Homo sapiens: one gene and its partner. The protein of the gene in region 2 interacts with the protein of the main gene of each other region in a biochemical or structural test. Each region holds a gene or a part of one and is shown on either strand. Other genes may lie near its edges.

Region 1 (3,473 bases), on a different chromosome or scaffold from region 2:
GGAGGAAGAGTGCACCAGGCAGAAGGAATTAGGACTGCAAAGTGCTGGTGGAGGGAAGGAGAAAAAGAAAGGCCAGCGTGGCTGGAGACTGCTTAGCAAGGGGATAGTTAACTAGAAGAATCTTAGTCATTAGCCTTCTTGAGATACAGAAAGCACATGTGCATATTGCAAAAAGGTCTGTACTCAAAGGCAACCGTTGCCTTTAGGAGTGGGAGGACCAAACCCAGTGAGGTTTGCTGTCTTTTTTCAGAGTAGTATCCTAGTATCCTGCCTTTCTCCCCACCCTGTGCAGAGAAACCACAGGAATTTGTGACTTCATTCTTCAAGACCAAGGATTCTACGGCTCTACAATTAGGGCCTCATGTGGTGTGCTGTGGTAACGCCACCGTGAAACAGAAGCTGGAGCTGAAAGAAAATAGAGATTTTGGAGTTGAAAGATGGAATTAGCATCCTAGCTGTAGCCATTTATTATTTATGTGAGCTTGAGGGGGTCATTTCACATTTCCCGGCTTTGTTTCCTGAAGGTCCTGGAAAAGACACATGCACAATTATAAGTGAACATTTATTTATTTTTAAATTTCTCTCTAGGCAAACAATGGAATGTATTGGTGGTTTGCTGGTGAACCGTTTATAGAGAATTCAACTCCATCCATGGCTGGAAGAGGGTCTGCTGCCTTCCGCAGAGGTGGTCTGGTTCTCCCCACAAATGCCCCGACAGCTGAAGTGATGCTGAGATGCACTTCTTCAGGCAGGAGGATTTGCTCCATGTAGCTTTTCCTATACACAGGGAGGGCGTTTACAGCTCTGCTTCATAGCAGCGGATGCTGCAGGGGTATGAGGGGCTGACCCTTGCTGGGACAACTGAGCACAGATGAATGTGTCACTGAGAAGGAATTCCATAACACATGTGACTTTCAAAGTTTTTATTGAGTCCAAATGGACTGCAGATACAGTGAGGATGCTGCTGCCTTTTGTGCCAATGAATTCAGGCTCCAAGATCCCCAGGACACCCCCATTCTGTCTCCATCTCTTGCATCTGCTTTCCTTTGCAGGTTGACCTCATTTTCCTAATCCCATTGCCCCCATGAAGCTGGAACCATGGCCAGAGGTAGCCTTGGGAAGAGAAAATCTCATCTCTAACCTTTGAGTGGAAAATGCTAAGGAATGGTTCTGAATGGCTCAGCTGGACCCCATGCCTCTCCTTGGTCTAATCATGGGAGCCAAAGGGATGGGTCACTTACAGCCAGCTTGGGGCATTTGCCCCGTTGCTGTGGCCAATGCCCTTAACAGAAGGGCAGAAAAGATCATGGGGTCAGCAAAGAGAGCAGCCTCCTCAAAGCTCAGAGGAGTGTAGGCACAGGTGCCACAGAGCAGCACGAGACCATCCTTGTGCTCTACAACCTAGTACAATTGAGTTGGGGAAGGTGTTGATTGATACTCATATGAAGACATTACGAAGTAAACCCTGAATGTGTCTGGTGGAATTCAATGGAAGGAGAGAGAACATCAGAGATTGATGTGTTCAGAGACGTGAAGCCACGGGGCAGGAGGAAGCCCTGGGCCAGTGGTGAGAAATCGGGCTGGATAGCAGCTATACAGGGGGGCCTGGAAGCCACAGGGGGAAGAAGAGTAGATTCTACACCACTATAGGTTCCTTATACATGAGGAGAGACAGCCAGGTAAGGAGTATGCTGGGGAGAGGGGGAAGAGCCTCAGCAGCAAGTGAAGGTGGCACCACTCCCTCCATCACCGCCCATGGGTTCCCAGTAGCCTGGAGAAGGCCATGAATTTCAGCGTTCCCTGTGTGACTCACCAATAGGATGCGGGCCTCACCATTTTGCCTGTCTCTGCCTGGGTTTCACTCACTTTATACCAGTGGGGCTCTCAAATTGCGGTGTGCATAAGACTTACAGAGGGAACATGGGTAAAACACTGGCACTGGGGACCGTCCCAGGGTGGGCGGGATAGTTCAGTGGGTCTAGAGAGGACCTGACAGTCTGCATTTTATTTTTATTATTATTATTTTTTTGAGATGGAGTTACGCTCTTGTTGCCCAGGCTGGAGTCAATGGCGCCATCTCGGCTCACCGCAACCTCCGCCTCCTGGGTTCAAGCCTTGGCCACCCAAGTAGCTGGGATTACAGGTATGCGCCACTACGCCCAGCTAATTATGTATTTTTAGTAGAGACCAGGTTTCTCCATGTTGATCAGGCTGGTCTCGAACCCCCGATCTCAGTTGATCTGCCCGCCTCAGCCTCCCAAAGTGCTGGGATTACAAGCATGAGCCACCGCGCCAGCCAGTCTGCATTTTTCTTTTTTTTTTTTTTTTGAGACGGAGTCTTGCTCTGTCACCCAGGCTGGAGTGCAGTGGCACAATCTCAGCTCACTGCAAGCTCTGCCTCCCAGGTTCAGGTCATTCTCCTGCCTCAGCCTCCCGAGTAGCTGCCCGCCACCACGGCCGGCTAATTTTTTGTATTTTTAGTAGAGACAGGGTTTCACCGTGTTAGCCAGGATGGTCTCAACAGTCTGCATTTTTAATAGGCTGCCCCAGGTGATTCTGATATAGCTGGTGCAACTTGCTTTGCTGAGTGGTGCAACAGACTTTGAGAAAAGTTGCACAGGGTAATGTCAGAGAGGAAGGAGGAAGAGATTTGTGGCTGTTGCTATTTGTTAGAAACTGACTTCTGATTGTCTGCAGTAGACCCTGCAAAGCTCTGAGCTGGGTAGGAATAGGGGCCACAGGAGCAGCATGAAGCACAAGCTGTAGCACCTACCAGCCCCTGGGTTGGGGACGACATGGGATGATGCTCATATGAACAAACTGTGAAGTCATCTCTCTCTGGGTGGGGTGGAATTCCATAGAAGGAGACAGTACAGAGAGCATATCCCCAGTCTAACTTGGGGATGTGGATTCCCAATGAGCCGAGCAGTCATTTTAATTTAATGAGCAAATGAAAACAGTGGGCAAAAGAAAAAATAAATGTTTCCAGGACTGCGGATGGGTGGGAAAGAAATGACTGGAAAGGGGAGAGTCAAAAATCAGGGAAACAGATGAAGTGAGGGGTAGGAAAGAAAAAGAGAGCAAGAGGAAGATTCTTTTTGAAAGGCCACTTTATTGATGGAGATAAAACTGAATGGAGTTCCCCACAGCCCTCCCCTCACTCATGTTAGTGGCTTCACTGGGCATCTGAGACCAGCGTGGCCTGTCACCCACATAGACTAGGCTGCTTAGCCCACCCAGCCTATCACACTGCCCGCTCCACGTTGGGCAGCCACATAAAAACACGTCACAGCTCAAGAAGATCCGTGGATGCACCTCTGAATCCCCCCCAATGGTTTCTGTGCATTTTTTTAATATTGTACAAAATATGTTAACTAGGAAAAATTAGCTGTACTGTGACAAGTGCGGGACGTCCTATTAGGATTACCGTCCCCCAGGCATTACTTCTTATTGCAGTAAGACCTCTAAAAGGT
Region 2 (3,814 bases):
GTGTTGTAGCAGGGTTGTGGGCACATGGGGTGCAAGTGTGAGGCCAATTCGTAAAGTGGCTAAGCTGAGTAGGGCTTTGAGTGCCAGAAAGAAGGATTGTTATTTCCTGGTGGTCCTCCTGCCCTGTCTAGTGTCCTGAAGCCTGAGAGTTTGCTGGTTGGCTGTGGGGGCCCTGAGAGCCATCAGAAGCCCCGGAATGGGCTCTCTGAGCATGAGCATCTTATCTCCCACTCTGTGTGCAGCTACCCAGTGCCACCTCTACATCCACAGGTCTCCATCACTTTTGACCCGTTTCTTTATCTGCCGGTGCCCTTGCCACAAAAGCAAAAGGTTCTCCCTGTCTTTTATTTTGCCCGAGAGCCCCACAGCAAGCCCATCAAGGTGAGGAGTAAGCCCCTACCCTCTGGGCTGTTCTAGAGAACGTGGCCCACCTCCCTCACTGACTGCCCTTTTTGCCACAGTTCCTGGTGAGCGTCAGCAAGGAGAACTCCACTGCGAGCGAAGTATTGGACTCCCTCTCTCAGAGTGTTCATGTGAAGCCTGAGAACCTGCGTTTGGCGGAGGTATCTTTGTCCTTCCTTGGGCTATCACATGTGTGGATGTGTGTGTGTACTCACCACAGACGTGTGTACAGTCATTGGCATCTACAGACATACACATGGGCTGGGCACAGTGGCTCATGCCTGTAGTCCCAGCACTTTGTGAGGCCGAGGTGGGCAGATCACTTGAGCCCAGGAGTTTGGGACCAGCCTGGGCAACTTGGTGAAACACTGTCTCTACAAGAAATAAAATTAGCTGGGCATGGTGGTACGTGTTATAGTCCCAGCTACTTGGGAGGCTGAGGCAAGAGGCTCACTTGAGCCCGGGATGTGGAGGTTGCAGTGAGCAGAGATTGCACCACAGCACTCCAGCCTGGGTGACAGAGTGAGACTCTGTCTCAAAAATAAATAAATAAATAGATAAAAAAATAAAAATAGGGCCAGGCGTGGTGGCTCATGCCTGTAATCCCAGCTCTTTGGGAGGCCAAGGCTGATGGATCACAAGGTCAGGAGATCCAGACCACCCTGGCTTACATGGTGAAACCCCACCTCTACTAAAAATACAGGAAAAGTTAGCCGGGCGTGGTGGCACATGTCTGTAGTCCCAGCTGCTCAGGAGGCTGAGGCAGGAGAATCGCTTGAACCTGGGAGGCAGAGGTTGCAGTGAGCCGAGATCGCGCCACTGCACTCCAGCCTGGGTGACAGAGTGAGACTCTGTCTCAAAAATAAAATAAAATAAAATAAAAATAGACATACACATGAGTATGCCTGTGACTGTACAAAAACAGGCGATGTGCTGTTATTTTTTCTGTGCAACAGAAGTGCCCTCAGTTCCTAGCCATTATCAGGGTTTATTCCCCTTTGTGGTGGTGGATCCCAACTGCATTTCCCTTTTTAGACAAGGAGCTTGAGCTGCAGGACTATCCCTATGTTCGCTCTGCCTCTCCCTCTATCCTGCTGCTCTCTCCTTTTATCCCAGTTGTGTGTGCTAGCTCTCCCCAGGGGTTCCTAGCCTTTAGCCTGACAGTGTTGGTTTTCTTAGGGGTAAGAGTGGGGAGGAGGCTCTTTGAATGTGGACCCTCCATGATAATATGTTACAGTCTTATAAGGCTATGCTAGTTATAGCAGGGCAGAGTCCCTCAGTGTGGAGAGCTGGTGTGGTTGATATCTGCCTCACACCTGGTCTTTCAGGCCCTCTGATGCACCAGGCTCCTTATGGCATTGGGCACTGAGACAGGTGCCAGCAGAGGCATAAGCCTATTTGGGCCTACAGACCTCACCACTGCCCACATAGACCCAAGGCAGGGCCAAGCCTTCTTAAACTCTGGGGCAGGGCTAGGGAAAGGGCTTATCCTCACGTGGGATCTGTGTGTTCTCTGTCCCCAGGTAATTAAGAATCGTTTTCATCGTGTGTTCCTACCCTCCCACTCACTGGACACTGTGTCCCCATCTGATACGCTCCTCTGCTTTGAGCTGCTATCCTCAGAGTTGGCTAAGGAGCGGGTAGTGGTGCTAGAGGTGCAACAGGTGAGTGGGGGCCAACCTGATGGCACAGCGCCCTGGTGGGTGGGGCACTTCTTCCTGGTCTTGCTGAGCCAGACGACCCACCCTAGCGCCCCCAGGTGCCCAGCGTCCCCATCTCCAAGTGTGCAGCCTGCCAGCGGAAGCAACAGTCGGAGGATGAAAAGCTGAAGCGCTGTACCCGGTGCTACCGTGTGGGCTACTGCAACCAGTGAGGACCCCCATGGTCTCCCCTACCCTTTCTTTCCACCTTCCATGTGCCACCCTGCTCCTTCCCTTCACACCAAGGCACATATGCTTAAGCTTTCTACTTGCCACCCTACTTTACCAGGCTCTGGGGGAGGCAGGGCTGGCGTACCCAGTTCCCAGGGACTATGACTAGCCCCCAGTATGGAGTCATAGGAGATGGGGCTAAGGGCCTATCCTTGTCTTCCTCTTCCCGTCAGGCTCTGCCAGAAAACCCACTGGCCTGACCACAAGGGCCTCTGCCGACCTGAGAACATTGGCTACCCCTTCCTGGTCAGTGTACCTGCCTCACGCCTCACTTATGCCCGCCTCGCTCAGTTGCTAGAGGGCTATGCCCGGTAAGTGCCCAGTGGTTGGACTAGAGTGGTGTAGGTGGGGGCAGAGGTGCTAGATGGGCTGGTCAGGAGTCTTACTTGCGTTGTTCTCTGTTGCCAGGTACTCTGTGAGTGTATTCCAGCCACCCTTTCAGCCAGGCCGCATGGCCTTGGAGTCTCAGAGCCCTGGCTGCACCACACTGCTCTCCACAGGTTCCCTGGAGGCTGGGGACAGCGAGAGAGACCCCATTCAGCCACCTGAGCTCCAGCTGGTGACCCCTATGGCTGAGGGGGACACAGGGCTTCCCCGGGTGTGGGCAGCCCCTGACCGGGGTCCTGTGCCCAGCACCAGTGGAATTTCTTCTGAGATGCTGGCCAGTGGGCCCATTGAGGTTGGCTCCTTGCCAGCTGGCGAGAGGGTGTCCCGACCCGAAGGTAAGATCCAGTGAAAGGCTCTAGAAGCTGGGGAGGAGGATAAGGGAGGATGGAGGGGGCTGTTGTTTAGGGCCTGGTGGGCCTGGTGAGGCCCTGATGGGCAGGGAAGCTTTGATTATCATGTTCTCACACAGCTGCTGTGCCTGGGTACCAGCATCCAAGTGAAGCTATGAATGCCCACACACCCCAGTTCTTCATCTATAAAATTGATTCATCCAACCGAGAGCAGCGGCTAGAGGACAAAGGTGTCTGAGGCTGTGGGTGGGAGCCATGGGGTGGGTTGAGCTGGCTGTTCTCCACAGCTGCATGACCTCTCTCCCTGCGAATCTCCAGGAGACACCCCACTGGAGCTGGGTGACGACTGTAGCCTGGCTCTCGTCTGGCGGAACAATGAGCGCTTGCAGGAGTTTGTGTTGGTAGCCTCCAAGGAGCTGGAATGTGCTGAGGATCCAGGCTCTGCCGGTGAGGCTGCCCGGGCCGGCCACTTCACCCTGGACCAGTGCCTCAACCTCTTCACACGGCCTGAGGTGCTGGCACCCGAGGAGGCCTGGTGAGAACAGAGCAGCAAGTAGATAAGGGGGCAGGATGGAGAAGAGAGAGACTTGCTGGTCCTGACCCAATCTCTGTCCCCACCAGGTACTGCCCACAGTGCAAACAGCACCGTGAGGCCTCCAAGCAGCTGTTGCTATGGCGCCTGCCAAATGTTCTCATCGTGCAGCTCAAGCGCTTCTCCTTTCGTAGTTTTATCTGGCGTGACAA

What was found.
Region 1: the proteins of USP19 (region 2) and WWC1 interact in a test that uses a peptide from one of them, tested with the Homo sapiens proteins (one large-scale study listed by IntAct).

What each region holds. Positions count from the first base shown.
Region 1 is NC_000005.10:168,469,379-168,472,851, reverse strand, and holds the end of WWC1 (protein KIBRA), read right to left. Parts: 3' UTR 549-3,473; downstream 1-548. UniProt on the Homo sapiens protein: Regulator of the Hippo signaling pathway, also known as the Salvador-Warts-Hippo (SWH) pathway.
Region 2 is NC_000003.12:49,110,741-49,114,554, reverse strand, and holds part of USP19 (ubiquitin carboxyl-terminal hydrolase 19), read left to right. Parts: intron 1-270; coding exon 271-381; intron 382-461; coding exon 462-563; intron 564-1,925; coding exon 1,926-2,066; intron 2,067-2,152; coding exon 2,153-2,271; intron 2,272-2,506; coding exon 2,507-2,644; intron 2,645-2,741; coding exon 2,742-3,055; intron 3,056-3,189; coding exon 3,190-3,300; intron 3,301-3,388; coding exon 3,389-3,605; intron 3,606-3,691; coding exon 3,692-3,814. UniProt on the Homo sapiens protein: Deubiquitinating enzyme that regulates the degradation of various proteins by removing ubiquitin moieties, thereby preventing their proteasomal degradation. Stabilizes RNF123, which promotes CDKN1B degradation and contributes to cell proliferation.